4 linked regions of the Homo sapiens genome follow. The protein of the gene in region 1 interacts with the protein of each later gene in a pairwise test. Each region holds a gene or a part of one and is shown on either strand. Other genes may lie near its edges.

Region 1 (7,828 bases):
GCATGATCTCAACTCATTGTCACTTCTGCCTCCTGGGCTCAAGCGACTCTCCTGCCTCAGCCTCCCAAGTAGTTGGGATTACAGGTGTGCTGACCGCGCCTGGCCTTTTGTTTGTTTTTCAGTTTGGGGTTTTTTTTATTTTTTTGAAAAAAAATTTTTAAATACAAAAATGAGCCGGGCATGATGGCGCGCACCTGTAGTCCCAGCTATTCGGGAGACTGAGGCAGGAGAATGGCATGAACCAGGAAGGCTGGGGTTGCAGTGAGTCAAGATGATGCCACTGTACTCCAGCCTGGGTGACAGAGGGAGACTCCATCTCAAAAAAAAAGAAAGAAAAATCTGTTGGTCAAATATCTCACCAGCGTATCATGGCTACACTAGTTCGCATTCACTGCTGATATTTTCAATGACCAAAACAAGGCTGGTTCACATTAACATCAAAAAACATATAAACAAATTTTAAAAGGTTAAAATTATTTAACATTTTAATTATTTCAGAAATGAGGCCAACATTTTAGGTGTGCTGTCAACATACAAAAATAATTCCAGCTCCTCTGAGACTGTCAGTGAATATCTGACTGCCACTAAGGTGCCAAATTGTCAAATGCAGCATAATGCATGAAAAGTGTTTTCTGTAAGACAATGAAGATTTAAACAGACTGAATGGCTTTTTTATTATTTCTCTCCAAAATGAACAATTGCCAATCAAGGAAAGCAAAGAATTGCTCGATCTTAGCGATTTAATTGTAAAACAAAAATATCTGACTCCTCTTATTTCAAGCTTCATATCAGTTTAATTAGAAAGTGTCTTCATGTTGCTAGGTGAACTACTTCAAAACCACCATCTGCAACTCCTTATCTGTGGGATTGTGTCTTCTTGCGACTTCACAAGCAAAACTAAAAACAAACTGGATGCTGAAAGTGATCATCCAAGTACCTTCCAAAATCCCTGATACTAAATTTGTGTTTTCATCGCACCACCTTCATTGTACTTACTGATTTTATAAGTCAATGTTCTAAAACTTAATTTTAAAAACAAATACCCAGAAGATACAGTTTTCATCTATTTTACATCTAGAACCATCATATACTATTATATAATTTTTTTTTTGAGACAGAGTCTCGCTCTGTCGCCCGGGCTGGAGTGCAGTGGTGCGATCTCGGCTCACTGCAAGCTCCGCCTCTGGGGTTCACACCATTCTCCTGCCTCAGCCTCCCGAGTAGCTGGGACTACAGGCGCCCGCCACCATGCCCGGCTAATTTTTGTATTTTTAGTAGATACAGGGTTTCGCCATGTTAGCCAGGATGGTCTCGATCTCCTGACCTCGTGATCCGCCCACTTCGGCCTCCCAAAGTGCTGGGATTACAGGCATGAGCCACCGTGCCCGGCCCATAAAATTTTATTTATAAAAAATAGGATTTTCCTAGTTTTAAACAAATTTTTGATACCCACTGATTTATTCACCACTGTTGGATGAATAAAGCACAAGAAGGGATGAAAGAAAACAGAGGGTGATATCTTACTAAGTACTTAAGTGCCACTACCTTAACAAGTCAAATGGAGGTTCCTATAGTGTTTTCAGGCTTGCTTTTTTTTTTTTTTTTTTTTTTTGAGATGGAGTCTCACTTTGTCACCCAGTTTGGAGTGCAGTGGCATGATCTGAGCTCACTGCAACCTCTGCTTCCTGGGTTCAAGCGATTCTCCTGTCTCAGCCTCCTGAGTAGCCAGGATTACAGGTACATGCCATCACACCCGGCTAATTTTTGTATTTTTAGTAGAGATGGGGTTTCACCTTGTCGGCCAGTCTGGTCTCGAACTCCTGACCTCAAGTGATCTGCCAGCCTTGGCTTCCCAAAGTGTTGGGATTACAGGCGTGAGCCACCGCACCCGGCCCGGTTTACATCTCTTGCAAACATAGCTGAGTCTTACTCGAACCTCCCTAAACTTTTCCCAAACTCATGAAGTGACAATGGCCGAGCCAGAAGCTAAGCTGCTGGGCTGTGAATTGGAGTCTCTCTTCATTTCCCCAAGGGTTCACATAGTTTCCCACACCATCTGAGGAGGTGTTATTTACCAGGGACTCCTATGAGCCAGTCACAGTGGCACACACCTTACAGAGCTTATCTCATTTTAAGCTTTGCCATAGCCTATGAGGTAAGCATTACTGTCCACATTTTGTAGACACTAATCAGCAGGCAGTATATAGATGATCCTGTATCTCCATACTCTCACTGCCGATCATAAATCATGACACTTTGTCCTGACTTAACCACCAAGACTAATCAAACGTCCCTTCCATTCCATCCATACAGCCACAGTCCCACACACTAATGGAACTCACGACCTTCCTTGATGAATGCTCTAATTCATCTTCCACCCAATTCTTCAAACCTATCCTACACTCACCTATAAAAACCATTCTCCTAAAAAACGTCATTTTGATCACTATTTTGATGGTTATTTCCATGTGGTAATTTCCAGTTGACTCTCATCTCAAATTAAAAACAATCTATGATTGTCTTCCATAAACTGTTCATTTTCCATCCCTAATTCTGCTATACCCCCAATCCTTATTCCATACAGCAATCAAACACTAGCTGATGAACCTGCAATCGGTCCTGCTCAATCCCATGTGTGACTTTCACATGCCACCGCCCTGGCCTAGAATATCTCCCCTTCTCCTCCTAACAAATCATGCCTCTCCCCAGTACCCATCAACTCCCTAAGACTCTCAGGCAACACCTTCGTCAGTATTATTGCAAACTGCCATTTACCTTGCCCAGTCCTCCCAAAGGGAGATGCTGGGCTAGAGTCAAAATCAAGCCCCATTCGCTACTTGATGTGTCACCTCAATCCTCTAGCTGGCTTACAAGTTACTGTATAGCCCAAGCCCATCCAAACAAAACTATATCCACACTCTAAAAGAAACTTCTCAAATCAGGTCTACTCCTTCCCTGCCTGTATTCATTCCTACCTTCAGGTTGCCTTTAGTCACTGCTTAAGATTGGAAGCACATGGTGACTCATGCCTGTAATTCCAGCACTTTGGGAGGCCAAGGCGGGCAGATCACTTGAGGTCAGGAGATCGAGACCAGCGTGGCCAATATGGTGAAATCCTGCCTCTACTAAAAATACAAAAATTAGCCAGGCGTGATGGCAGGCGCCTGTATTCCCAGCTACTCTGGAGGCTGAGGCAGGAGAATAGCTTGAACCCGGGAGGCAGAGGTTGCAGTGAGCTGAGATCACACCACTGCACTCCAGCCTGGGAGACAGAGCCAGACACCATCAAAAAAAAAAAAAAAAAAAACAACTGGAAGTGCACATTAACCTCTAGAAGCAAAAGGAGTGGATACTGGACAATAGGGCTAGTGGGAGAGTAGAAGAATCAGTATGTCAAACGGCTCTTGCTGCCACAGTACAATCGTGAATTTCCTCTGTAGAGCTCTATTCTTAGAGTCATGTCTAGCATGATTAGTCTAGGAAGACAGGCTCGTGGGAAGGCTTGGGGAGGGCCATCAGATCTAGGCCTTATAAAAAGAAGAATTTTTATTTTTCTTGATGTTGGCTAAATGGTAAAAACTCAAAAGCCAAAATTAGATAAAAGATGCCTTAGGAGGCCACAGTAAACCTCCTGGAACCAGCCCAGCCCAATCTGATCCTTCCTTTCTGTTAACACCACGTTTCCTGGAGCACATGTGAGTTTCATGAGATAGGACTGCAAACTAGAAAGAAGGGCATCAGGCCAGGCGCAGTGGCTCATAACTGTAATCCAGTGCTTTGGGAGGCCGAGGCGGGCAGATCACCTGAGGTCAGGAGTTCAAGACTAGTCTGGCCAACGTGGTGAAACCTGGTCTCTAACTAAAAATACAAAAATTAGCTGGCGTGGTGGCACACACCTGTAATCCCAGCTACTCGGGAGACTGAGGCAAGAGAATCGCTTGAACCCAGGGGGCAGAGGTTGCAGGGTTGCAGTGAGCTGAGATCATGCCACTGCACTCAAGCCTGGGCAACAGAGTGAGACTCGGAAGAAAGAGAGAAAGAGAGACACAGAGAGAGAGAGAGAGAGAAAAGGGAAAGGAAGGGAAGGGGAAGGGAAGGGAAGGGGAAGGGAAGGGAAGGGGAAGGGAAGGGGAGGGGAGGGGAGGGAAGGGAAGGGAGAAGGAAGGAAGAGAGAGAGAGAAAGAAAGAAGGGCATGCAGAGACAGTAGGGTGCTCCCTCAAGACCGAATAATCAGCCAGGGAGATAATGACAGACAAAATCAGGGGCCGAGATAATGACAGATAAAATCAGGGGCCCTGCACTCCCAACAGCTTATAAAGTAAAATGGAAATAAAACCATGTGTCTGAAGGAAGCATAGGGTACCATGACAACATTTCAAAGGAAGATTGATCATGTCGAGGTAGTCAGATTAGGCAGTGACTCTGAGCCGGGGCTGTGCCCAATAATATAAAGCCTTTTAAGCCGTAGTATGGTTTTGCTTAGGTTTTTGGATGATAATGAGTCTGGGTGGGGTTTTTAGGTTTTTGCTCTTTATCCTAAAAACAAAGAGAAGCGTCTGAAGACTTACGCAGGTGAATGGCATCATCAGATTGAACTGCCACAAACTACTCAGGCTACAGTGTGTCTGAGGGACTGGAGAGTGGCAGTGAGGAGACCGCCAGGAGGAGGCAGAACACAGCAGTGGAGACAGACGCAGGCTGATGATTCAGGATGCATCCATGAAGTAACACTCACAAGACTTACTAGCGGACAGGTTTCATGCGGAGTAGTGAGGAAGAGAGACAGGTAACAAGGAAGACTCCTGGGTCTCTAGTCTGGGTGTTGGTGCTCTGGGGAGACTGAGGCAGGCCAGTGTAAGACAGGGGCAGGGAACAGATAGCATGAGGCAGATATGACAACAGGAAGTAAAAATCAGCTTGCACCGAGAAAGCAAAAGTCTGTCCTGACTTCTGTCAGGCTGGAATAACAAACACAGATAAAGTCAGGTGCCAAGTTAACAGAAAATATCTCTCAAAGACAATGCAACTGTAAAGTGTCATAATGACCTCTTCTTTGAGTGACTGCTAACTTCTTATTCACTGAGAAGCCTTATTCTGTAAAATCCCAGACTCGCACAAATTTTGTTCTTTGAAATTATACAAGTAAGAAGATCCCACTCTTGCCTGCAGGATCTAAGTCACTGTGACACAGAAAAGAACCCTATTTCCAGCTACTGCAGAGCTTCAAGTAAGGGATTTCTAGAACAATGTTCCACGTCTATTTGAACGTTGTAGTTTTCAAGGAAACGGGACCTGGGTCCGCTTCGCAGTCAGACTTAATATTGGTCCCTTTAGACACAGTTCTATTTTGCTTCATTTATGCTTCACCTAATACCACTCTGTCTCCAAGTCCTACAACAACTCTATCCTCTTTTTTGTTGACATGCCCCACAGTTTCTCGGTGTTCTGGTATGGTCTTCCTCACTGCAAAGAGCCATAAACCTCACTCTGTCAGACTGTGGGTCTGTTCCTGGCGACCTTAGACTGATTAGGCTAGGGCAGACATTTAGAATTTGAAATAATCATGAAACAAGCAGGAAGAAATGCCAAGTCGGAGTCAGGCACAAGGCCGTGAGCTTGGAGAGTTCTGGGCTAGAGAGTAAATCCAGCAGCCACTGGCATCAAGACGGTAACTGAAGCTGTGAGTGTGCATGAGACTGCCTAGGGAGAAGCCATGGGGTGAGGCAATGAGCGGGGCCTAGGCCTGAGTCTCAAGCCCTATTGGAAGGCTGCAAAGCAGAGAAGGATAAATTTCAGCAAAGGGGAATAAGCAGGAATTGCCAGAGAGACTATGGGGAAAAAGGTGACTCTATAGCCTGGGAAAGGCCGGGACTATGAGATAAGATCTCCCAAAGGCAGACTGTGATCAAGTGACCACAGATTTGTTTGTGGCCCTCACTCGGTTTGATTTTGGCAGCGGGACTGATCACTAAAGACACTCATGTTAACTAACTCATGAGACCCTGATGTATTTTTTAGAATGCCAGTTTATTAATTTACAGTGAGAATATAACCAACCAGCAGGCTGCCATACGCTGCTACTGGTGTATGCCTATTTACCTTCCTTTCCTGAAGATAAATGCACAAGGAATGACTAATCTCAGAAAGTTGCTGGATGAGCATGAAATCAAAACTAGAGAAATTAGAAGTCAATGACCTGGCATTCTGGCAACCAATGACACGCCATGTATCTGGCAGAGTCCCAGTGGGAAAGAGAAATCAACCCAGATGTTGAGACTTTTCTGAAGGGACCACTTACAGAGGGGAGAGCAGAGATAACAGAACCACCAAGGGACAGCGAGGTACCCAGGGACTAGCAACAGCCCTACAGCCACAGGAGCAGGGGCAGTCCAGCAAGAGCTAGGACTACGGAAGAGGCCTCTAGACAGGAGTCTCTGTTGTGGAGGGATGCAGCTACTGCCACAAAACAGCAGCAAAGCAGGGAGGGAGCAGGAAGAAACACCCCAACCTCTCTCTCCACCCAGCAATGCCTTCCATTGGTGAGCCCCACTGGCAGCCAGCAAGGGAACCAGGAGAGCCCCATCTGTAGGGATCTACCTCCCAGAGCACACCACAGGGCAGAGAAGACTGGATCCAAGGACTTCGGAGAGAATATAAACAGGACAAGGTACGGTGGATGAGAACTGTCCCTTCTAACTGGATGTGGCTGGCCCACTGACCAGATACGTTTGCACATGCCAGAAACTCATATTCTCGGGGTGAGCTATCTTCTTGTCTGGACAAGTGCTACAGCTACCTGGGCCCCCTGGATGCACCTTTTCTAGAGGGCACACAGGGAGGGATAACAACCAAATGTCATGCAGTAAATTGGCCTTTACCGTCAAAGGCTGATTTAATCATGATTTGGCCTCAATCAAGCAAGTGCTGAGACAATCTCAGAGTATGTCCAGGAACTTCAATAGGCTCCTAAACTGGTATTCAACATAACAGCTCAGCTCAAATCTCAAAAGTCTGAATGGACACCAGAAAGCCTAAACTTCAATCAGTTCTAGATACTGGCTCACCCATCCACCTAAAGATAAGTGAACACACTTCCAGCTATCTCTACTGACAAGTAAACTCCATGCAAGGTTTCCATTTGGCAAGATCCTTAACTTACACAGTAAGTACTTAATTTTCAGAATAGAGCTTTTCAGTTATCAAAAGTATAAAATTCTTCTGCCAATGAAGAGAGAGAGAAAGAGAAGCTGTTAATAGATGCTCAGAAAACTGGCAACCAACTTATACCAACTTACATATGTCCAAGTCACTACACTGAGGAAACCTCCCTTTCTTAGGTCATCAGACTCTCCCAAATATCATCACAAGGACTGTAAGAGTACCTTAAAATTCGTTTACAATTATTTACCTAGGGTAAATCTGCTAGAACAAATTACTGTTACCACCAATGACTGCTGAAAATGAAGACTCACTTTTTTCTACAATCTTTAATTTCTGGAAGCTCTCCAGCACCTCCCCATTTAGTATTCTGGGTAAGAAGTCCCGTATTTGCATCACTTCAGTTGTCAGCCGTTCCAGATCCTTCTTTCTGACTTTAACAAATTCCTCTTTAGTTCCCATGTGCTAAAAGAACAAGCAGATCTTATTATATTTCTCTTCACATGAGAAAAAAAACAACAGCTCAAGTTAACTTGCTTTTCTTTCACACCTCTTATGTGCATCGTTGTTTCAAATCATGTCTCTACCTACTGTATATTCTGCTATAGATATATTTTATGTACATACAAACATTTTGAAAGCTGAAGCTTCAGCCTTCAAAAAGGGAGC
Region 2 (7,765 bases), on another chromosome or scaffold:
CTCCACCCACACCATGGCCCCGCCCCATACTCATGCTGGCTCCACCCACACCATGGCCCCGCCCCATACTCATGCTGGCTCCACCCACACCATGGCCCCGCCCCATACTCATGCTGGCTCCACCCACACCATGGCCCCACCCCATACTCATGCTGTCTCCACCCACACCATGGCCCTGCCCCATACTCATGCTGGCTCTACCCACACCATGGCCCCGCCGCATACTCATGCTGGCTCCACCAGTGTGGCCCCGCCCCATACTCATGCTGGCTCCACCCACACCATGGCCCCGCCCCATACTCATGCTGGCTCCACCAGTGTGGCCCCGCCCCATACTCATGCTGTCTCCACCCACACCATGGCCCCGCCCCATACTCATGCTGGCTCCACCCACACTATGGCCCTGCCCCACACCCATCCCAGCTCCACCCACACCATGGCCCCGCCCCATACTCATGCTGGCTCCACCCACACCATGGCCCCGCCCCATACTCATGCTGCCCCCACCACACTATGTCCCATTCTCACATTTGCCCTGCCCCATGCCCATTATGCCCCTGCTCCACACTCAATGCTGGCCCCGCCACACTGTGGCCCTGCCCCATACTCATCAATATGAGTCCCCATGCCTACTCTGGCCCCACCCCACAGACCGCTGGCTCGGGCCTGGCGCGTCTGGGACTCTCATGGTACGCAGACCGGCCTGCAGGCACCTACAGCGGAGGGAACAAACGCAAGCTGGCGACGGCCCTGGCGCTGGTTGGGGACCCAGCCGTGGTGTTTCTGGTGCGTGGGAGCGGTGCCTGGGTGGGGTGGGGCCTGCGACGGAGGCGGGGCCTTGCTTATGGGATCTTCCGTGCTCCCCAGGACGAGCCGACCACAGGCATGGACCCCAGCGCGCGGCGCTTCCTTTGGAACAGCCTTTTGGCCGTGGTGCGGGAGGGCCGTTCAGTGATGCTCACCTCCCATAGGTGGGCCGGGCTCTGATGCCCTGGGCTGTGGTTAAGGTGATCCAGGCCTGGAGAGAGAGCCCCAAAGCACAAGGCCACAGGGGATGGGGGGTCCTGGCCCTAGTGGGGCGAGGGCGCCAGGCCCCGGGGTGTAAGGACACACAGAGGTGGGACGCGGCGCCGGGATCAGAACGGTCTGGGGAAGAGTGGGGAGATGTCCACACCAGAAGGGTGGCCCAGGCCGGGGGAAGCAGGCAGTGTGGCGCCAGGCACAGGTGGCCCCGGCCTCACGGAGCTCGTGGTGCCGGGTCCCGACAGCATGGAGGAGTGTGAAGCGCTCTGCTCGCGCCTGGCCATCATGGTGAATGGGCGGTTCCGCTGCCTGGGCAGCCCGCAACATCTCAAGGGCAGGTGAGCCGGCGCGGCCTCCAGGCAGGTGTGGGGTGAGGGTGGGCACGTAGGTAGGCTCAGGGGAGAGGCCAGACGTAGAGCCGGGTGAGGAAAGTTTGGCTCCAACTGGAGAGATGGCCAAGGCTTTAGATTGTCCTGCAGGGGTGACTGAGGGGGCGAGACAGGCTGGGGTGTGCTGGGGGCGCAGGACCAGGAGGCGTGAGCCGGGGGCTCTGGGTGGATTTAGAAGACACAATCAGGTGTGCGTTGGAGTAGGTGCAGCCTGGAGAGGTGAGGGTGGATTGATGGGTGGAGTTAGGGGAGGGCCTGGTTAGTGGGCGGGGCCATAGGAAAGTGGGGCGGGGGTATTTATTGTGTGGGCGGGGGTAGAGTGCAAGGGCGAAAGAGGAGTGTCCGAAAAAGGAGTCAAGTGGGGTGATAGCTTCGAGAGCAACCTGGGCAACCTAGGGAGACCCCATCTCTATAAAAAATTTAAAAATTAGCTGGACATGGTGGTGTGTGCCTGTGGTCTCAGCTACGCGGGCGGGGGGTGGCGGGGGACTGAGACGGGAGGACCACTTGATCGCTAGGGTAGTACAAGTATGGGGCGGGGCCAGAGAGTATTAGGGGCTGGAGGGTGAGCTGAGGTGGGACCTGGGAAAGGCCCGATCCGGTAGCCCTGGCCCCACTCACTGCAGATTCGCGGCGGGTCACACACTGACCCTGCGGGTGCCCGCCGCAAGGTCCCAGCCGGCAGCGGCCTTCGTGGCGGCCGAGTTCCCTGGGGCGGAGCTGCGCGAGGCACATGGAGGCCGCCTGCGCTTCCAGCTGCCGCCGGGAGGGCGCTGCGCCCTGGCGCGCGTCTTTGGAGAGCTGGCGGTGCACGGCGCAGAGCACGGCGTGGAGGACTTTTCCGTGAGCCAGACGATGCTGGAGGAGGTGATCACGGCGCCGGGGTCGGGCTGGGGGAGGCAGGCTGGGGGCCAGGCCCGTGGGCTGACCGTCCCTCTTGTCCCCTCTGGGCTGCCCACCGCTAGGTATTCTTGTACTTCTCCAAGGACCAGGGGAAGGACGAGGACACCGAAGAGCAGAAGGAGGCAGGAGTGGGAGTGGACCCCGCGCCAGGCCTGCAGCACCCCAAACGCGTCAGCCAGTTCCTCGATGACCCTAGCACTGCCGAGACTGTGCTCTGAGCCTCCCTCCCCTGCGGGGCCGCGGGGAGGCCCTGGGAATGGCAAGGGCAAGGTAGAGTGCCTAGGAGCCCTGGACTCAGGCTGGCAGAGGGGCTGGTGCCCTGGAGAAAATAAAGAGAAGGCTGGAGAGAAGCCGTGGTGGTGAAACCGTGTGCATGTGTGTCCTTGAGCCAGGCTGCACACATGTCCACACAGCTGCCTGCACATGCGTCTGGATATGGCTGGCCCCTTGCAAGCTGAGTGTGCACATACGGGCCAAGTGGCGATTCATAGGACACAGGTGTGAGCGTGCCTACAGCTGACCGGATCCCAGCTGTAAATGCCTCTGTGGCCAGCCCAGGAGTTGGGGATGTGAGTGCGGGCCTCATAAGGGCCTGGTCACACCGTCCCTGTCCCCACGTCCCTGCGTGCCTATGTGGGGCTGGCGCCTAAGGGCGGTACCTGTAAGTGCCTGGCCATAAAGTGGGGATGAGGTCAGGACTCAGGAATGTCCTGGGAAGCTTACAGGAGCCCGGTGTCCCGGAGCACAGGCCAGGGCCGGGCCAGAAGCCCATCCGACATCCAGCTGACCCTCACCCTCTGACCCCAGCCCTCAGCGCCATGAGTCGGGGGCAAAGAGTTCTCAAGGGTCTGCTGGGCTGGGTTTGCACTTGGACCTGGGCCTGGAGAGCCAGACTTGGAGCAAGGGGCTGTGGCCTTCATGTCCTGTGCCCCAGAGATCTGCCCCTCCCACCCGAGGTAGGTGGGAATGGGGTTTGGGAAAGGAAAGAGGTTGGGGTTTTGGGATTGGGGGTGGGGTTCTGGAAGGGGACAGCAGGGAGACTTGGGGAGGGGGGAGAGAGTTCACACTGCGGGGTGGGGGTTGGGGGAAGGTAGGAGGCTGGGATCTGTATGCCTGCAGATGCCCCAGCTCTTGGCCAATGCCGCCTCAGGCTGTTATCAGCAACGGGTGCCTGCGTCCTGCTGCCCAGCACGTCCGGTGGTCCAGAGTCACTGGAATGCAGCTTGGGAGGCGGGGCTGGGGACCTTAGCTAAGGGCAGGTCTGGGGCAACATGATATGGCCCACAGGGCTGCTGAGAGGTAACCAGGTGTCCTCAGCATATTCTGCCGATGGTGGGGTCCACACCACACTTTGGGGACCCCTGTGCAGGCAGCCCAGGACCAGGTGGACGTGGGGACCCAGACGGACGTGGGGACCCAGACGGACAGGGCCCGGTAACCTGGATTGTTCTGACTTCCTGGACGTCTTTGCCCCCAGGGTTTCGGTTCTGGGCCTCAGTTTCCCCACCTGTCCTCGACCTGACCCACTTCACGGGGCTGCAGGGCGGGTGATGGGGGGGACCCTACTCTGCCCGGCCCTGCTGGGGCCCGGCCACACCCTAGGGTCTGCAGGAGAGGCGGTGGAGCGGGCTTGCCTTCAGGGAAAAGGGGGCTGCAGGGGCGCAGCTTCGGCCTGTGCGTGTGTCTGGGGTCTGAGGGCGAGGCTCCAGGGGCTTGGTGGCGTCTGAGCGCGTGTGGAGGTCCGGGTCTCTGCGTGTCATCGTGCACGTGTCTGTGCACGCCCACTCGCGTCCGGGAGTGAGAGTCAGCGCCCTGCAGTCGGCCGCCCCGTGCCCGCCAGCGTCAGGCAGGGGCTCCCGGTCCCACCCCGCGAGCGGCGCGGCTCCGAGCTCCCGAAGGCGGAAGCGGGGGGCGCGGCCCGGGGCTGGGGGCGGGGCCTGCGACCTCACCTTCGCGCCCACTCCGCAGAGCCGCAGGCTGAGGCCGGGAAGGGTCGGGGGCGAGGCCGCGTCGCCGCCTCCCCGAAGCCTTTTCCTGTTGGGGGGAGGGCCCGCCAGTGACGGCCGGGCCTGTCACGTGGGCCTGACAGCTGGGGAGGGGGTGGCCGGCGACAATGTGGTCCCGAAGCGGCCAGCGCCGGGAGCTGCAGCGCTGAGACCCCCAGCCCGCCCCCTCGGGCTCCCGGCCGGGGCCCCATCATGTTCTCCAGGAAGAAACGAGAGCTCATGAAAACCCCTTCCATCTCGAAAAAGAACCGCGCGGGAAGCCCCAGCCCGCAGCCCTCGGGGGTGAGTGGAGCCCGGGTGAGACCCGGAGCTGACGCCGGGCCGCAGGGGGACAGGGACCCGCCCTGTGCTCGGGGCTCATGCTGGGGCGGCGGCTGGGGGCTCGTGCCAGCTACAGCCCCTACCGGGCGGGACGGCAGGGGCCACAGCAGAGAGGCCGGGACCCCGGCATTCAGCTCACGGTAGGGACCCTGGGAGTGGTGGCCGCCTCCCTCCACTCCATCCAGGGCTGGCCGCGGGGCCCAGGGAGCAGGAAGGGAGGGTGCCGGGTTGGGACGATGTTGTGTTTGGGCCGCTGCAGGTTGGGGGCTTAGGCAATCTGGGGGCTCTAGGGGCCGTTGAGATGGGAGGGCTGTGGCCTGGCCATTGGGCTGAAGGTTGACCGGGCAGCAGATCCTCTAATGGGATCCACCAGGTTCAGAGGTTGGGGAGTGTCCCCAGGCCTGGGGTGTCTACAAAGCTGGGGGGGGGGTCTACAGAGCTTGGGGGTCCGGGATGTCTACAAGGCCTGGGGCTGCCCATAGGCTCTGGGGTTCCATGGACCTTTAGGGGACAGACAGAGTCAGAAGTGTGTTCACTTAAAGCACCTGCGTTGTAGGAGCCTGAGGGGGGCTTGAAGGGCTGAGGACCCTCCCCACCCCCACCAGGAAGTGGGGACCCCCCTCCCGCGCCTCCCCGCAGGCCCCGCCCCGGCTGTGGTTTGGGCAAGGACCGTTGTTTGTGAAAGCTCTAGGGAAGAGGATGTTGGGTAACAGGTGGGGGGGTACACTACCAAATCTCGGCCCTGTGACCTCTGGCCTTTGACCCCTGTGGGGTCAGGGTGATGGTGGCCCTCCACAGCCCCACTTCATTTCTGGGGAAACTGAGGCCGTGTCCAGGCCGGAAAATCCCTTTAACGAGCTCCCCTCGGACCTGCCCAAGGAGCTGCCCAGGAAGGATGGGGCTGACGCGGTGTTCCCCGGACCAAGCCTGGAGCCGCCCGCTGGGTCCTCCGGCGTCAAGGCCACAGGGACCCTCAAGCGGCCCACCAGCCTGAGCCGCCACGCCAGCGCGGCTGGCTTCCCCCTGTCGGGTGCTGCCTCCTGGACACTGGGCCGGAGCCACCGGAGCCCACTGACAGCCGCCAGCCCGGGCGAGCTGCCCACCGAGGGTGCCGGCCCGGACGTCGTCGAGGACATCTCCCATCTGCTGGCGGACGTGGCCCGCTTCGCTGAGGGCCTTGAGAAACTTAAGGAGTGTGTGTTGCGTGACGGTGAGAGCCACGGGGACACCGAGGCCTGGGTGGAAGACAGAGCCAGACCCAAGGGAGGATGGAGGGAGGGACTTGGGGAGGCTCAGAAGGGAGGGAGGCTCAGATGGCAGGGAGGGCTGTGTGGAAGAGGCCATGACAGCTAAGGCTCTGAGGGATGTGTAGGAGTTTGGTGGGGGAGTCCCTGAGCGTACACTGGCTCAAGAGGGTGCCCACTTTATTTTTTTTAAAGGATCTGATGGCAATTAGGAGGGAAAGGCAGAGGAAATGTCCCATGCACAGGCTCAGAAACACGGAAACAGAGAATGCATTTGGGGGCCAAGGTGTGGGGTGCCGCTGGTGTAGGATGAAGGCATGACAACGCCAGGCAGAAGGGCAATGGGGAGCCATAGAAGGTGTTAGAGCACAGGACAGATGGGGGCAGATCTGTGTCTTGGAATGAAGCAAACTGGGGGTTGGCTGAGGTCTGGGTGGAGAGAGATTCAGGAGGCATGGCGAGGGGCAGGATGGGGTCATCAGGCGGCGGAGGTGCTGGGACCCAGCGGCCTGCAGGCCGGCAGTTCCGTTTTCTCCTCCACGCGGCCGCTGACAGCCCTGCTTCCTGCCGAGTTATTTTCATCTGCTTCCTGTTTGTCCCTGGCAGCCCAGGCGGGCACCTCATGTGCTGCCTTCAGCCCCCGGCTCCTCCCAGAAACCACAGTGCCAGGGTCATGCCAGGCGCTCTGATCTGCTCCCAGCAGCCGCCCATTTTACAGATGACGAAACTAAGTCTCTAGTGAGGCCCTGACCCCTGGCTCACCCAGCCAGGGCAGGGCAGAGCCAGGACTGGACCTCAAGTGGTGGAGTGGCCTCTGCACCTTCAGGGCACTAGTTGGGGAAGGCCCGGTCCCCACTGGGAGGAGTGGGAGCCCCCGGGTTATCTGGTCCCAGGGGCGGGGGCTAGGCTGCTTTCCTGGGGAAACCCTAATCTCGGTTCCTTTCCGATCCTGGCGCTTCCTTGGAGGCCTGGCCTGGGCGGGGCTCAGCTCCCAGGCTCCTGCAGGAGGTCTGAACTGGGCCAGCCAGGGTGGGGCACTTTTTTTTTTTTTTTTTTGATACAGGGTCTTGCTCTGTTGCCCAGGCTGGAGTCCAGTGGTGTGATTGAGGCTCACTGTTACCTTGAACTCCTGGGCTCAAGCCATCCTCCTACCTCTGCCTCCCGAGTACCTGAGACTACAGGCATGAGCCACTGCACCTGATTTATTTTATTTTATTTATTTTATTTGAGATGGTGAGATGGAGTCTCACTCTGTCGCCCAGGCTGGAGTGCAGTGGCGCGATCTCGGCTCATTGCAACCTTCCTCTCTCGGGTTCAAGTGATTCTTCTGCCTCAGGCTCCCGAGTAGCTAGGACTACAGGTGCGTGCCACCACACCTGGCTAATTTTTGTATTTTTAGTAGAGATGGGGTTTCACCATATTGGCCAGGTTGGTCTCAAACCCCTAACCTCGTGATCCGCATGCCTCAGCCTCCCAAAGTGCTGGGATTACAGCAGGCATGAGCCACCGTGCCCGGGCTTTTCTTTTTTTCTTTCTTTTTCTTTTCTTTTCTTTTTTTTTTTTTTTTTTTGAGACAGAGTCTCACTCTGTCACCCAGGCTGGAGTGCAGGGGCGAGATCTCAGCTCACTGCAACCTCCACCTCCTGGGTTCAAGTGGTTCTTCTGCCTCAGCCTCCCGAGTGGCTGGGATTGCAGGGGCGCGCCACCGTGCCCGGCTAATTTTTTTTCTTTCTTTTTTTTTTTTTTTTAGTAGAGATGGGGTTTCACCATTTTGGCCAGGCTGGTCTTGAACTCCTGATCTCAAGTGATCCACCCACCTCGGCCTCCCAAAGCGCCAGGATTACAGGCGTGAGCCATCGCGCCCGGCCAGTTTTTGTAT
Region 3 (7,828 bases), on another chromosome or scaffold:
TGGATTGGGATATAGCATTCTTAACATAATAAGCAATCTTTTATGCATTTGCTGTTAATTTTGCAATTTATTTATTTACATTGGGAATTACTGAGTAACAGAAGCTACTAGAAAAGCAAAGACAGGAGGTAGTGTTACGAGTGATATTTGCTCAGCTGAGTATTAGGTAGAAGTTTGGAGTTTTTATTTTTTGTATTTAATAAACATTATTGTCCATTCAATGATGCTCTTTCAGGCAAAAGCTGGCATGAAGTAAACTGTGTAGGATTACCAGAACTCCAGCTCATCTGCCTTGTTGGTACTGAGATAGAAGGGGAGGGGTTACAGACTGTGGTGCCTACCCCCATCACTGCTTCCCTCAGCCATAACAGGTGAGCAGGTGATTTTGGTCTAAGTTCCTTTCCCGAGTAAAGCAGTAGGAAACATTAAACATAGTGATGTAATACTTTTAATGAAATTTGGGATACAGGGTTCATAGCTTTACTCTTGGCTATTTGAGGAATAAGTTAAATATGAGTGTTGTATTCGGCCATTCTTGCATTGCTATAAAGAAATACCTGAGACTGAGTAATTTCTTAAAAAAAAAAGAAGAGGTTTAAGTGGCTCATAGTTCTGAAGGCTTTACAGTAAGCATGGTGCTGGCATCTACTCGGCTTCTAGGGAGGCCTCAGGAAGCTTATAATCATGGAGGAAGTTCGTGAAGCAAGAGCAGGCACATCATATGGCAAAAGCAGGAGTGAGAGAGAGTGTTGAGGGGGAGGTTCCACACACTTTTAAATGACCAGATCTCACGAGAACTCATTGTCCTGAAGACAGCACTCAGCCATGAAGGATTTACCCCTATAACCCAAACATCTCCCACCAGGCCCCACCTCCAACATTGGGGATTACAGTTCAACATGGGATTTGGGCAGGAACAAATATACAAAGTATATCAAGCATTCAACAAGTATTTATTTAGCACTTACTCTATGGTCAGTACTTTTTCAGAGACAGTATGTATGGTAGAAATATTTATATTCTTGGTAAGGAAGCAAGACCATTACATATGAAATAACAGCTGTTATAAGATGTACCATGTAATACAAATTATACTTTATATAGCAGTTGGTGAAAAGCATGATTAACATGCAAGCTGAAATCAAATTTTCATGTAGCTTTTTTTAAAAGCTTTAAAAAAGAGACTTTTTTTAGGACCTTTTTTTAAAAAGCTTAGGTACACAGCATTGGATTAAACATGTCTTTGTTTCATGACATACTCTCATTATTAGTTCATGCTTGGTTTTTATTTATTTACTTAGTTATTTTTAATAATGTAATAAGTATCTCTGTACCCATCACCCAAAGCAAAACTAGATTCTTGATAATAACTAACATCTAATCTTATAAGTCCCTTCCTTAACGTGCTTTCACTGACCTGAGGTAACTCATTCTGAATTCCATGTACATTGGGAATTTTTAAATTTTAGATGTTTTTAACTTTAATTAAAAAATCTTATCTTTTAAGGCTGACCTTATACACTTAATATTATATTACTAAAATTCATCCATTCTTGTGCATTTTTTGAGCTGCCACATAACATTCCATTGTGTGATTATACCACCATTTTTACATCCACTCCCTCGATGATGGAGTGTTGCTAATGTTTAACTTTAGGAGATAATTTCAAACTATTTTCAAAGTGGTTGCCTCAATTTACTTTTCACCTGCAGTGTAAATAAGATCCTTTGGAGCTGTATTGTCTCTCACATTTAGTATTGTCAGACTTTTAAATTTTTGCCAATGGAATGGATTATTCTTATTTTGGTCTTAATTTACATTTCCCTTATTACTCATAATACTGAATATTTCTTTATATATGTATTATTTATAAGAAATATCTGTTCATATCTTTTGCCTGTTGGGTTGTTTTTAGTTTTCTCATTGACTTGTATGAATTCTTTATATATTCTTGACCTAATAGTTTTTTTATTGTGTTTTCCAGTTTTTAAGTCTGTCTTTCACTGTCTTAAGATGTCTTTCAATGAGTAACAGTTCTTAATTTGAATATAATCATATTTATCCATCTTTTATAATCAACGTCTTTGTGTCTAGTTTAAGAAATATTTTCTATCTAACGGTCTAAAAAATACTTATATTTTCACTAAGAGTTCTATTGTTCTTGTTTTTAATGGTGTGAGAGGCGGTTAGGGATACCATTGTCATGTGGATAACCACTTTTTCTACCTCCATTTACTGAATAGTCCCTCCTTTCCTCACTATCTGACATATCACTTCTGCTACTTTCCAAAGTTCCAAACATGCATTAATTTGTTTCTGGGTTCTCTATTATATTCCATTAGCCAGTTTATCTGTCCTTTTGCCAATACCATATCTCTTAATCGCTTGCTTGGTAAGAAGTCTTGGTATCTGGTTAGCAAGCCTCCCTTATGCATTTCTTCTTTAGAAGCTGTAGCAGGCAGCTTCTAAGATGGCTTCTCCTAATTCTGGTATTCACTCCCTTATGTAACTCTCTTCCCTTGAGTGTGACCTGGACTCAGTGACTTCTTTCTAATGAATAAAATTTGGCAAAAATGATAGGAATGTAACTTCTAAGATTAGGTTACAAAAGACTGTGGCTTCTATCTTGGGCACTCTCTCTTGCTTACTATAAAGGAAGCCAGCTGCCACGTGAGCTGTCCTACAGAAAGTCTGAAAATAGAAAAGAGATGACAATTATTGATGGAGCAAGATTCTTGAGAGATGAGGAAGGATGGATTCAAGAGGATAGTGGAGGAGAGTAATATTGAGCATGTAAAGGGGTGCTGTAAACCTCTGAGAGTGGGGTATGGGAAGAATGAACAAATGAAAACACAGCTCTATTTGGGTGGCATATAAGTAGGGAAAAGAGCAGAGCCTCTTAAATTCCAGCATGAATACCGTTGATGAATACTTAACATTTTTTCTAGCTGACTATGACTGAATACATAGCAGTCTAGTAGAAAGAGCCCCAGACTATAAAGTCTTAAGACCTGGGTTCTAGTCTTGGGACTGACACTTAACATTTTGTTTGATGTTTAGCAACACACCTAATTTCTCTGGGTTTCAGTTTCCTCGTCTTATTTTGTTGTTGAGGGATTTAGATTACCAGTACATGCAAGATCCCTTCTAAATTAAAGCTGCTGTAACTGGTTATTTTCATTGTGCATATTTCATAAAGCCATATTAAACTAAATTTGCAGATTTCTATGAAGTATTTTTTGTATTTATTATTCATAATGAGAATTGTTTTTTAATATGTCAGTCTATTCATATGCTTCTTTGAGAAGCTCCTTACTGTTTTCTCTGTGTTTGAGAATTACAAATAGTTGTTAGCATTGACATCAGATTTAATCGCTAGTACTTTCCGGTTTTTACTAGCATGATTTCCAAGCCATCCTATATCCAAGAGTCTTAATTCATTCCTCAGAACTCATTACTTCTGTCTTTTAATTACTGTAACAAATATTGTCCTAGCTAGTATTAATGTTATATTATTTGTTTGGACAAGGAGCTACTATTTGAAATTAACCTGCATTTATTCCTAAAAAATAAAATTAATGAAAGCAATAGCCTATTTTAATCAAAATCATTTCATAAGTCTAGAAGTACAAATTTGTTTCCATTGTTAATTTCTAGTATTTTCCAGGTGGTAATTAATGCTTTTCTAGCTTGAATGGCTAAAGCTTGTTTTCTTCTTCAAGTAGAATTAGTTGGAATGATAACTTGGTAAGCCATTTTGATGCTGTTGCATTTAATAACTGAGAGAGCTTAAATCTTTATGTCTTGTTTTTATATAAATATTCTTAACTATATTATACAGTAGAATACTAATATAGAATGTAGCACAAATGAGGCCTGATACATACTAGATTTATATGCCTTTTAGTGCATAACATTTTCTCAACTCAAACTATGCAAATAACTTTTTAACAAATGGAAATGTGTGGGTGTATATGTGTGTATGTGTGATTTCATTATTCAGTCTTTAACAGGGCAGTCTTTTAGGTAGTAGGCATACTTTTATCTATTTTTACTTTTAGTGTATTTTATAATATAAAATGTTATATATCTAACAGTAATGCTGCAATTCCAGCCTTTCATAGTTAATGTGGGAATTTTTCTGTGTTAGTAACACAGAGAAGAAAATGATTGATGTTGAGTCTCTGATAACCTTGTATAGCAAAGAAATTCATTGGGACATGTCCTAAAAGTATTTGGTGGGAAGATGTGAGGGCAACTCACCATGAAAGAAAAAATACTTTTTATTTAAGAGGGAAAACAGCTTTTACTTATTCAGTGATAAAACATCTACATAAATTAACGATTCTGTTTTCACTTTTAAATATTATTATTTGTCAGATAATATTGCTTGGGCTTTTTGGTCTTAACAATTATTTATTGAGTGACTCTTATGTGTCAGGCAATGATCTAGGTGCTGGGGATACCATGATAACAAATACTTTCATGACATCCTCATGAAAGTAGTATTCTAGCACTGAATATTCGCTTAGAAAATACTTTTTTTTTTTTTTTTGGTAATTGTTGGATGGAATTTTAAAAAACAGAATTGCCCTTTGTTCAGATATTTAATTGAATGTGTGATTTGGGACTGCCTTCACTTATTTTGTAGCTAGATAATTGAATAACAAGTATTATGGAGTACTGATAAGTAGTTTAACAGGGATATGTACAAAATTATGTCAAAACCCAGAGGAAGGACAGGAAAAGTCTCTTTAGCCAGTAAGAGACCATGGTTTAGTAGGGTAACTGCAAGTAATTAAGCATGATTGCCTACCTAGCATGGTGTCTAGTCAGAGTAGGTGTCTAGTAATATTCCTTAAGGCAGCAAATGAATGAATGAATGAATGAATAAAATTTCAGAGAAAAGAGGGAAAGGATGGAAAATTAGATGGGAAAGTTTATTTAGATTATGAAGGCCATCATTGTTTTTACTTTTTTGCTATTACTAATGGTATTCTAATGAATAGCCTTGTGAGTACCTCCTTGTACTCATGTATGAGAGTTTTCCTAAGAATAGCTGGGACATGTATACCTTTATACCTTCTTTTTTTTTGAGATGGATTCTGGCTCTGTCACTCAGGCTGGAGTGCAGTGGCACAATCTCGGCACACTGCAGTCTCCGCCTCCCGGGTTCAAGTGATTCTCCTGCTTCAGCGTTCTAAGTAGCTGGGATTACAGGCATGCACTACCATGCCCAACTAATTTTTTGTGTTTTAGTAGAGACAGGTTTTTGCCTTATTGGCTAGGCTGGTCTCGAACTCCTGACCTCAAGTTATCTGCCCGCCTTGGCCTCCCAAAATTCTGGCATTACAGGTGTGAGCCACTAGGCCTGGCCTATCCCTTCATCTCTACTGGTTATTGCTAAATTGTTTTCAAAAGGATTATTACCAGTTTACACTTGCACTTGCAATGTGTAAGTTTTCACAGACTGGGAGAAGATTTATAACATGTGCATAACTGACAGGTTAATTTAGAATTAGCTTCTGTGATTTCAGAAAAAAAATCCCAATGGGAAACATGGGCAAAGAATATGAACAGGCAACTCACAGAAGAGGAACTCAAATGCTCAAATATGTTTGTAAATGAAGGAATTACAAATATAAAATGTGTTTGTGTTGTCTTAACTTTGAAGAAGACTTGCAGACAGTTTGTTTTTATTTTTTGACAGAAATAAGGTACTGTTTAATGGGGAACTTTTGAACAGAACTACAGCTAGCACTTAGAGAGTCTCTGAACAGTTTAGGAAAAGGAGCTCCCTCTCGACATGCAAAGGAAAATGTCTCTTCACTAAGGTTCAAGGCTTGGCGAACAATGAAGGCCAGATTTTAGATCCACTTGTGCCAGGCACCGTTGTGCAAAGCACAATCTGCATATCTGTACATGATGCCCTGCCCCTGAAGCATGTCTGTGGAGTCTTAGGTTTCCACAAAGAACACTATGAAAATTACTGCTAAATGGGTGGTGTCATTGAAGGGCTTTAAGCAAGGAAGTGAGACTATTGTTTATTCTATGTGGTTTTAAGAATACTTTGCATTTGCAGAGAATGTTACAGAATTTCAAAGTATTTCAAAATATTTTTACAAGTAGACTTTCATTAAATCAGCACCAAAATCCCTAGTGGTATACGGGGTGTTTGTTTTATCCTAACTTTACATACAAAAAGCTGAGGTTAAAAGTATATTTTCATTTGTACCCCCACTTTTTCCAAAAGATAATAAAAGATTAAGTGAGCTGTACCACGGTCTCAGTTAGCCTCACAGCTATTAGAGTTTCTCTTGCTTTATTGGTTTTTAAAAAGATTTTATTGTAAATGAAACTAGATACGGAAAACCACACAATACCAATGTATAAATTAATGAGTTATAAGGCAAACGTCTAGAACTCTTGTAATTATAACTAAGTCAAGAAATAGAACTTTTCTAGGCACCCCACAAACTTTTCAATGTGCCCCATCCCAATCATAATCTTTCTTCCCCCCCAAAATAGCCATTATTCTTTCTTTTATAGTAATAATGGGCTTTGGCCCATATATTGTTCCCAGGACCTCTTAGTGCTAATTTGTCTTTTGACTCTCACTCAAGAAAGAATGTTGGAATATCACTGGTGAGACTGATAATATTATCAGGAATATTAGTTTTATATTTAAAAATACCCTGCCAACTTTACTACTCTATTGTTAGAAACAAATTACTTGCCACATACTATACAACCAACCTCAGCATACCAGTTGTAAATCACCATTTTAGACTGTGCGTCTTAGCTGCTTGAATATAGTGCTTTAAAAAATGCTTTGTAGTCCTCAAAAAACCTTAAATAACATTTTTATTAGTAGGAGAGTTGGGTAGCATACACAGCTGTAGAGCCAGAGGAGTTGGCAGTTTGCTGGAGCTACAATTTCTTATTATTTACAAAGAGCATATAGCACATAAGGCCTGATAACTGTCTCTTTTATTGAAGGAGACAAATTTTATAATCTGTTGTTTGTAAAACTGAACCAAACTCTGTCATTTACATAGTTAACTACAACTTAGTTATAAAGTATTTCCCTAGTGATGACAAATAGTCCCACTGTTTCAGTCACCACTTGACTGTTATGTGGCAGAGTGGCATGTATATTTATATGGTTTATTATTTATTTTATGGTGTATATGTATTTTCTGCCTCCTTAAAAAGTAATTGTTCTAAGGAGTGTTTAATGTTATATCTGTGTGCTATTCTAAGAATGCCTGAACAGTTTTTAGTGTCTGCTTCCCACTTACTTTCCCAGGCTTTAGACCTGGTGGTTTTGTTTACATACTTTCTGGCAAGAGTGTCGACAGATTCCATTACAGGGTGAATGTGTATTTGAATGACTGTGAGTGAATGCATTACTTTGAGCACAAGTACGTTTTGTGTTTAGCATTTTCTGTAAAGCAGTTATATATGATATGTGATCACAGTTAAAACACTTTGTCATATTTTTCAAGTTTCAGAAGGTCTTGTGTGTAATAGTCCTTATGAAAATATTGATTTAATGTTATTTCCTGATCTGTAATGGGGGAATAAAATTGATAAAGTGCCCATTTCTGATTATCTAGTGGGAAAATTTTGCTGATGGAGTATGAAGTAATTAATTGCTAGTGTTTCTTGTTTCTCTCATCTAAAAATACTTCCTAAAGCTAATGTAAAATAATTTTTAGTTTGCATTATAATGCCATATTAAGTTGTATATTTGCATGGTATCCATATGGACAGTACTCTAGATTGTTTCTTTGCTAAATTGAATCTAAGGAATACATGAAGCAA
Region 4 (7,952 bases), on another chromosome or scaffold:
CCCAAATGACCCCCGCTCAACACAGGCAAGACCACAGGCCCTGTGCTTGGCACAGTTCCTGCAAATGCAGAACAGCCCTCTTTATTTCAGTCTCCAGGCTTCTGGCTGGCAAGGAACACTGCCCGGCTGTGAAGCATTTTATAGGATTATAACGGGCTATGCCGAAGGCAAGTTCTGAAAGACACTTTGTGCCGTTTCTTTGAGTGAAGCTGCCTGTTAGAGCAGTGTTGTTCCTAAGCCCGTAAACACACACACAGGCAGAATGGGGAGCTCTGGGCTCCTGGGGCCACTTAGCTTGGCGGCATTGCAGGACTGGACCAGCTTCCCTCAACTGTGACACTAACCTTAGGGATATGCTTGGAGGCCCTCCTGCAGGGGTGCCTGTTTTCTGACAGTCTTTGTTCACGGACACCCCCAGATAGTGTCTCAGGCAGATTGCCTAAAACCCCAATCTGTCAATGGTGGAGCAGTGCATTACATATGGGGAAGGTGCTGAAGTCAGGGACCAAGGTGGAAATTGCATGAGGTCAGAAATACTCCTGAAATAGCTAATCCTGACCTTAACCTATATACTGATGGAAGTTAAAAAAAAATACTCCTGAAAAATTTGTTAAATGCCTCAAGGACCATATACATGGCTTGTATGCACCCCAAATTGCTGGCTTGAGTTTATAGGCTTTGTTGTACCAAAAATATCTGTATTTAAACACCAGAATCCTATTCTGGATGGTGAGACATTCGTGCTATAAGAAGCTTGGAAGAATCAGACCACCCAAGAGAATTCCAGATTCCCATCTTTCCTTTTGTAGCTTATGCTTTTTTATAGCACTATTTAAATTGTTACAGGCCATTAGTAATCTCTCTGCCTCTGTCTGTCTCTCTTTGCCTAGCATGTATAGTGGAAAAGAGGTATGTTTGTCATATATATGTTGTGTAGCCCTGTGTATTTATTGATTTTTATGGCTCCAGTATATTTTAAGGAAAGCAAAGAAATGTTTTAAGAGAAGATGGATACGGCAGCCTTCTCATCAATCAATATGACTGTTCATTGCTCTGCAATAGTTGTGCTTCAACCTAAGTTGCACTTTAACATTTCTTCGGAGGCCAGGCACAGTGGCTTATGCTTGTAATCCTAGCGCTTTGGGAGGCCGAGGTGGGTGGATCACTTGAGCTCAGGAATTCAAGACCAGCCTGAGCAACATGGTGAAACCTCATCTCTACAAAAAATATAAAAATTAGCTGGGCGTGGTGACGTGTGCCTGTAGTCCCAGCTACTTGAGGGGCTGAGGCGGGAGGATTGCTTGAGACCAGGAGGTTGAGGCTGCAGTGAGCCAAGATTGTGCCACTGCACTCCAGCCTGGGCAACAAAGTGAGACCTGTCTCAAAAAAATAAAATAAACATATTTCTTAGGGTTTGTTTACTGTTACACTGGATTTATGGTATGTCAGACTCCCTGCTTGGCCCTAAGGATACTGCAATGAGCAACCCAGTCCCAGGGCTATCAGACGTCGCCAGGGTGACTATTTTCTTCACCAAGTGCTGTAAGTATATTTTCCAACTTGAGAACACGGCCCAGCAAGCTCTTCTGGGAGTCAAAGCCAGTGGCTTTGATGGCAAATGTGTTCTAGTTGAGATAGTGGACTGTGAGGGCCAGAAGAGCAGGCAGAGAAAGAGGAATAAGAAGTGGCTCGGGTACTTGGGCACAGGTTCTTGGTGGCCAGACAAGCCCTGAGTGACGCATGTCACTGCCTCTGGCCCTGCCTTTGGCTGCATAGTTAATCAGGGGCTACTTGGAGATGAGGTTACTCTCACACCCCCACCAAGCTTGGCTAAGCTTTTGGAGCACTTGTGTGAGCTCCCCATCAGCACAGCTCAGGCTAAAAGGATAAAATTGTGTTCAGGAATACAAATAGGAAAAATCAGTGGTTCTGAGGTGCTCTTTCCTGCCCCATACCTCTTCTGAGACAGTTTTCTTCCTATTGCTTCAGGTTATCTATCGAGGGAAAAAAACTCAGGTGCTCTCTTCAATTTCAGTTGGAACCTCCACCCATTCAGGAGCTTCATTTACATGTGTGGTAATAACAGGCTGGTTACACAGGGCCCAATTCTTTCTGCCTCCAAAGGCAGTTTGTCTGCACTAGCTGGGTAGGAAAGTAAGTGGATTTAGTGTGAGGGTGTGGATTTGATACCTGGGATGAAGAGCTATGTATTATGAGGTGTCCTGCCTGAGAAGTAGGAACTGCTGGGTTCTGACCTCAGCTAGAAGCAAAGAGCACGCAAACAGGGACTGGATATCACCATTCCCACTATCCCCTGCATCCCCAGGAAGTAAAAACAAAAGATAGTGTCTCCATAGATCACCACCTGATGTAGTCATGACTTTCCACATGAGGAGGAAAAAGATTCAACAGTACAGTCTACAAAATAACTTTTGAGAGATGATCATTTTAGGGCTGGGCATGGTGGCTTACACCTGTAATCCCAGCACTTTGGGTGGTTGAGGCAGGTGGATTGCTTGAGCTCAGGGGTTGGAGACCAGCCTGGGCAAACATGGCAAAACCCTGTCTCTACAAAAATACAAAAATTAGCTGGGCACACTGGTCCAGGCCTGTAGTCCCAGCTACTTGGGAGGCTGAGGTGGAAAGATCACTTGAGCCCAGGAGGAGAAGGTTGCAGTGAGCCAAGATCATGCCACTACACTCCAGCCTGGGCAACAAAGCAAGACCCTATCTCAAAAAAAAAAAAAAGAAAGAAAATATGATAATTATAATATTTTAAAAAACTATAATTTCCCAAGAAGTGCCATGAATGAAGGTATTTTTCTTTTTTTCTCTTGAGACAGGGTCTCACTCTGTCACCAGGCTAGAGTGCAGTGGTGCAACCATAGCTCACCACAGCCTTGAACTCTTGGGCTCAGGAATCCTCCCACCTCAACCTCGGGATTAGCTGAGACTACAGGCATGCACTACCATACCTGGCTAATTTTTAAATTTTTTTGTAGAGGCAGGGTCTTGCTATGTTGCTTAGGCTGGTCTTGAACTGTTGGCCTCAAGCCACACTGCTGCCTTGGCCTTCCAAAGTGTTGGGATTACAGGTGTGAGCCACTCTACCTAGCCATCTTTTCTTTTTTCTTTTCTTTTCTTTTCTTTTTCCTTTCTTCCTTCCTCTATTTCTTTCTTTTTTTCTTTTCTTTTTTATTTTTTCTCAGGGTCTCTGTCACCCAGGCTGGAGTGCAGTGGTATGATCTTGGCTCACTGCAACTTCTGCCTCCCAGGCTCAAGTGATCCTCCCACCTCAGCCTCTGGAGTAGTTGGGATTACAGGTGTGCACCACCATCCCTGGCTAATTTTTTGTATTTTTTTTGTAGACACAGGGTTTCACTGCTGCCCAGGCTGTATTTTTCTTATAAAAAATTTTAAAACATGAGCTATAAGCTTAAGTCCCTTTTGTTCACTATCTTTAATTCTTTAAACCCAGGTGCCTCCCTTCAGCCACAGGGGAACTGGTAAAAGCTTGCTGTGGATTCTTGTAGACAGTGTTCAATGCTATTTACCCACAAATATGTCTTTATAGAAAATATATGATATTCTTTGGTAAACTTGTATTTTTTTTTAACACAAATGGTATTGTATTATGCTTAGTCTGCAATTATTTTTAAACTGAGTCTAATACATTGGAGATCTTTCCATGCCACACCCATAGACCCATCTCCTTTTTCACTGCTGCTAAGCGGTATTACACAGTGAAGAAAGTTTATTTAAGCACTCCCTATTGATGGATATATTACCATTGTTTCCAGTTATTTTTTATTTTTTACTGCCCCAGACAGGGCTGCTGCAAACAACCTTAAGATCAATCGCCTTCTTGGGCATTTATAATGTCATTGTTTCTCCAAAAAGGATCCAGAAAGGTGTGGTAGTGCCAGGTCATCCATGCACAGCTTTATACTTGAAGGACACTCTGTCAGATTGCCCTCGAGTGTCAGGCAGCCTCTGAATATGCTAGTCAAATTTAAAAGTTGGTGCAAAGTGGGAAAGGTCTCGAGGGAATTTTCCGGGGGTGGTGGAAATGTTTCGTATACCGACTGTGGAGGTGGTTATACGGGTGTTTACATTTGTCAGAACTCAACAAACGGTACTCTTAAAATGGGTGCATTTTGCCATTTGTAGATTATATTCCACTGACATTCATTTAAAAAACCAAACAAAAACAAAACAAAACAAAAAAAACGTGCAGTGGCCTGGGAACAGGGTAAGAGAGAACACCACCCCTTTCTAATGTGGGCTTTTAAAACGCTCGCTTTTCCCCCCAGGCTCCTTCCTGCCTCCAGGTGTCACTACAGCCTCCTTTCTCCCCGTTGCCCGGTTTCGCCCCAGCCTCCTTTCTACCAGCAGCCTTTCACCCGGAGAGTGCCAAAGAGCCCGAAAGGAGCTATCATGGGGTCTGCCTGCCCCGCAATCGCGGCCCACGCTCTGCGGGGGCGCCCGGAGTCGAATACCAGCGGGGAGAGAGAGGTCCCTCTCCACCCGCGGGACCGCCCCACGCCCCTCGCAGCCCCAGGAGGTGTCCGCGCTGCGGCACGTGGGCCCTCCCGGCAGCGTGGGGCGGTGCCGAGCCGGCGGCCCGCCCCCTCCCCACCCATCAAGGCGTGGCTGGCACGGTCCCGCCCACTCGGCTCCGGAGCCCAGTCGAGTCCTGCCCGGCTAGAAGCCGGCTGTCGGTCTCCGTGTCGCCGCCGCCGCCCGGCATCGTGGAGCTGGGGCCCCCTTTTGCCTGGGAGTTTTGTAGTCGCCTAGGGTCAGCGGTGACATCCCAAAGGGCAGGCCCGGCAGCCGCCATGGTGGCCAAGGATTACCCCTTCTACCTCACGGTCAAGAGAGCGAACTGCAGCCTGGAGCTACCCCCGGCCAGCGGTCCGGCCAAGGACGCTGAGGTAGGGCCGCGCCCTGCACCTGGACCTCTATGGGTCATCTGCCTGTCTCGTCTGCCTCCATCTCCCATTCTCGGCGCCCGTCCAGTGTCACTGTCTCTGTTTCCATCTCTCACTCTCCGTGTGTGCCACTTTCTCTCTCTACATCTCTCCCACAGTCTTCTTTGTGTCTCCCCGTCGCCATCTCTCACCCTGTCTCCTTTTCTCTCGCTTTTTCTCTGTGGACCAAGCACTAGCTGCCTCCTCTCTCCCTGTCCCTCTACCTGCCGGTCTGGGAGCAACTGCCTCCTTGCCTTTGCAGGGCTCTCAGACTGTCCATCTTCTGTCTGGACTCTCAGAGGGACTTTCTCCTACTGTCAGCAAGCCCCAGTGTCAGGGAAGTGTCAGCAAGCCCCAGTGTCGCTACCCTTTAAGCGAGTTTTTTTTGCCTGGGTTGTGAGAGCAGAGGGACGTACCAGCCCTCTCACCTGTCAGACTTGGCCTTGCAGCCCTTTGGCAGCAAAAACAGGACACAGCGCCTCTGCCTATCACCTGTGGCCAGTGAGGGTCATTCAGCCGGGGGGCTGGGGCTAAATGAGTAAATTGGAGTGTCTCCCACATGGATCTTGAAAATGAATTAAAGTCCTTAGGGTCAATGGAAAGCTGCCTTGGAACATTGGAAACATTTCTCTTTCTGGGAACTTTCCTGTGCCTTGCGGGCGATGTGAAGGAGTGCTCCCAGGTTATGTTTAGTCTGCCTTTTCCTCTTGCGTGTTATTTCTCTGGCACATAGCTCACTGGCCTTAAAGGTTGGGTTCAGCTGGAGGAGAAAGCATCCCTCTCTTTGAGGGTCTTAGGGAATACAGTCGCTTTCGCTAGATTACAGCTTTGCTGTGGTCAAGCTGCGGTGGAACCCACAGGACCCAGCTAGTCATTGCCGCTCATGCGTGTATCTGGGAGCTTTCCACTCTCCCACACCTCACTCTGCGAACATCAAACATCACCACCACCACTGGGGAAAGGCTGAAGGCAGGTGTGCATCCGGCCTTGTCACAGCATTCTTGAGGTTCCACCCACTCGCCTTCCTTGGGTCTGCTCAGCTGTATGCACTTGGCTCACTGAATCATGTATATTCGGGAGCACACCATCAAAGATTCATTTCCTCTAGCAAGAGCTGCTCCAGGCTGACAGGACTCCAAGCAGTCTCTGGTTGTATTCAGCTTTCTATACGCTGAGCACAAACTAACTTCTCCCTCACTCAAACCCAACCCTACACTCCAGCTCAGTCGAATATTATCACAAAGAGTTTTTGTTGCCAGCAGCTGTGAAAGTGTGATGGCCCTAGTGGCATTTGCATAGAATTCAGGTTGGTCAGGCCTGGAATGGATATAATATTTTTTCAGTGGGAACTTCCTAATTTAATCAACATAGGAGCAGCGCAATTGGTGCCCACTCAAACTCCACTTGTAAGGAAGAAAGGCATAACCAATAAATTAATAAATTGAAGTGGGCCAAAGAAAAGAATAGTGAGGATAGCTGAGGACTCTAACCAGTCCCTTCCTACTATTACTTAGTCCTGTGTTTTTGAGTAGTTTAGCTAAAGGCTTAGGTAAAACTTGCCTGCTTAATTTCATTTTATTCTTATACATAGAATATAGATATGTCTATATATCACAAATATGAAACTTATCACATGTCAAATATTAATTTTCTTCATTGGTAGCTGGATCTAGACTATAAAATATGACTTATTTTCCTCGTATGGGGATATCCTGATGTGAGAAATAAGGAAGGGGTTGGAATAGTTTTGGAAATAGTTGGTAAATATTTTTCAGATATCACTATTGGGGTTTTTGTTTTTTAGTGTTTGATTTAAACACTAAATCAAGTATGCTTTATACACTTTGAGGCAGAGATATCTTTTAGCTTCATCGATGAGCATATCACTTCCTGATAATGGAAATTGGCAAAATTGGAAAAAGAAACCTAAGTGAGTTTAGTGGGTAGTTTTCTGGTTTCCTTATCAGCGCAAAAGGCAGCCAACCCTTGTAGGCCTAGCTTCTCCATAAGCAGTTAACTAAAATATATTTTCCACCAGTAGGTGTCGTCAGTATTCATAAATTAAAAAATAGCATTCGCTTGTCAGCCTTTTGAAAAACATGATTATATAATTGTTTATAAGCTAGGCATTGACTGTTAATTCCTCTGAAAGTATTTTTTTAAGAGTGATTGTTTTCTTTGTGGAAAGAATGTGGTTATAATAAAAAGAAAAATAGATCTATCCAGAGGCCTTTCTAGGAAAACAGGACTTGTTGACCTTCAAAGGCCGTTGCAACAGAGCACCTGTGCCCTTTAAACATTTAATGGCCGTGTGTAATGGCTGTTCCTTCCGAATTTGCCTTGGGTAGGACAGTGCACACAGCATGGCACTGGGAAGTGCCTTCTAGCATTGACTCCTATCCTTGCAGCAAGTGTACTGGGGAAAATCACTTAGGAAAAGGCTCCTGGGGAACAGGCAAGTGGCATTGATGTGCATTTGATACCGTACACTGAGTAAAAAAATATGCAAAAATAAGCATTCTCTTAAAAGCAAATAAAATTTCTACTCAAGATTTAAGTGATTTGTAATTTTTTATTTGTGGTAGTTTCCAGTGAAAGCAAAAAATGATATTTTTAAAATGTATTTTTATTTTCTTTAAAAGATCTATTTTAAGCTTTTGAAAATATTCTACAGGGATTATAATATTGCATGTCTGTTAGTATAATACTGCCTCTTAATCTGCTATTTCTTATGACATGGGGGTTTGAATTGGTTGGCAAATGTTTAATTTTAATATCCATAATCAGTGAGGTCCTGCTGGCTGTAATCATTAATTGTGAAATCTAAGGAGCTTAGTTCATGGCTCTAGAATTTCACAGAAAAATGTGATATGATACGAGCATTAAGTTTATTTCTTCTGATCTTTGATGCAGCTTTGTTCAGTTTATCTGTTTTTGTATTTATTGGTCATCTACTTCCCATGCCAAAAGGGACTGGTCTAC

What was found.
Region 2: the proteins of HSF2BP (region 1) and ARHGAP45 interact in binary tests that used the Homo sapiens proteins (3 or more experiments, as listed by UniProt).
Region 3: the proteins of HSF2BP (region 1) and TSEN15 interact in binary tests that used the Homo sapiens proteins (3 or more experiments, as listed by UniProt).
Region 4: the proteins of HSF2BP (region 1) and ARHGEF3 interact in binary tests that used the Homo sapiens proteins (3 or more experiments, as listed by UniProt).

What each region holds. Positions count from the first base shown.
Region 1 is NC_000021.9:43,649,114-43,656,941, forward strand, and holds part of HSF2BP (heat shock factor 2-binding protein), read right to left. Parts: intron 7,625-7,828; coding exon 7,474-7,624; intron 1-7,473. UniProt on the Homo sapiens protein: Meiotic recombination factor component of recombination bridges involved in meiotic double-strand break repair.
Region 2 is NC_000019.10:1,062,893-1,070,657, forward strand, and holds the start of ARHGAP45 (rho GTPase-activating protein 45 isoform 1 precursor), read left to right. Parts: upstream 1-4,274; 5' UTR 4,275-4,513; coding exon 4,514-4,603; exon of another isoform or gene 4,604-4,680; coding exon of another isoform or gene 4,681-4,782; intron 4,783-5,521; coding exon 5,522-5,852; intron 5,853-7,765. Other genes in the region: phospholipid-transporting ATPase ABCA7, read left to right, coding at 652-786, 868-971, 1,269-1,361, 2,039-2,279, 2,378-2,533. UniProt on the Homo sapiens protein: Contains a GTPase activator for the Rho-type GTPases (RhoGAP) domain that would be able to negatively regulate the actin cytoskeleton as well as cell spreading.
Region 3 is NC_000001.11:184,054,493-184,062,320, forward strand, and holds part of TSEN15 (tRNA-splicing endonuclease subunit Sen15), read left to right. Parts: intron 1-235; coding exon 236-371; intron 372-3,668; exon of another isoform or gene 3,669-3,748; intron 3,749-7,828. UniProt on the Homo sapiens protein: Non-catalytic subunit of the tRNA-splicing endonuclease complex, a complex responsible for identification and cleavage of the splice sites in pre-tRNA. It cleaves pre-tRNA at the 5' and 3' splice sites to release the intron.
Region 4 is NC_000003.12:56,798,685-56,806,636, reverse strand, and holds the start of ARHGEF3 (rho guanine nucleotide exchange factor 3), read left to right. Parts: upstream 1-4,687; 5' UTR 4,688-4,838; coding exon 4,839-4,934; intron 4,935-7,952. UniProt on the Homo sapiens protein: Acts as a guanine nucleotide exchange factor (GEF) for RhoA and RhoB GTPases.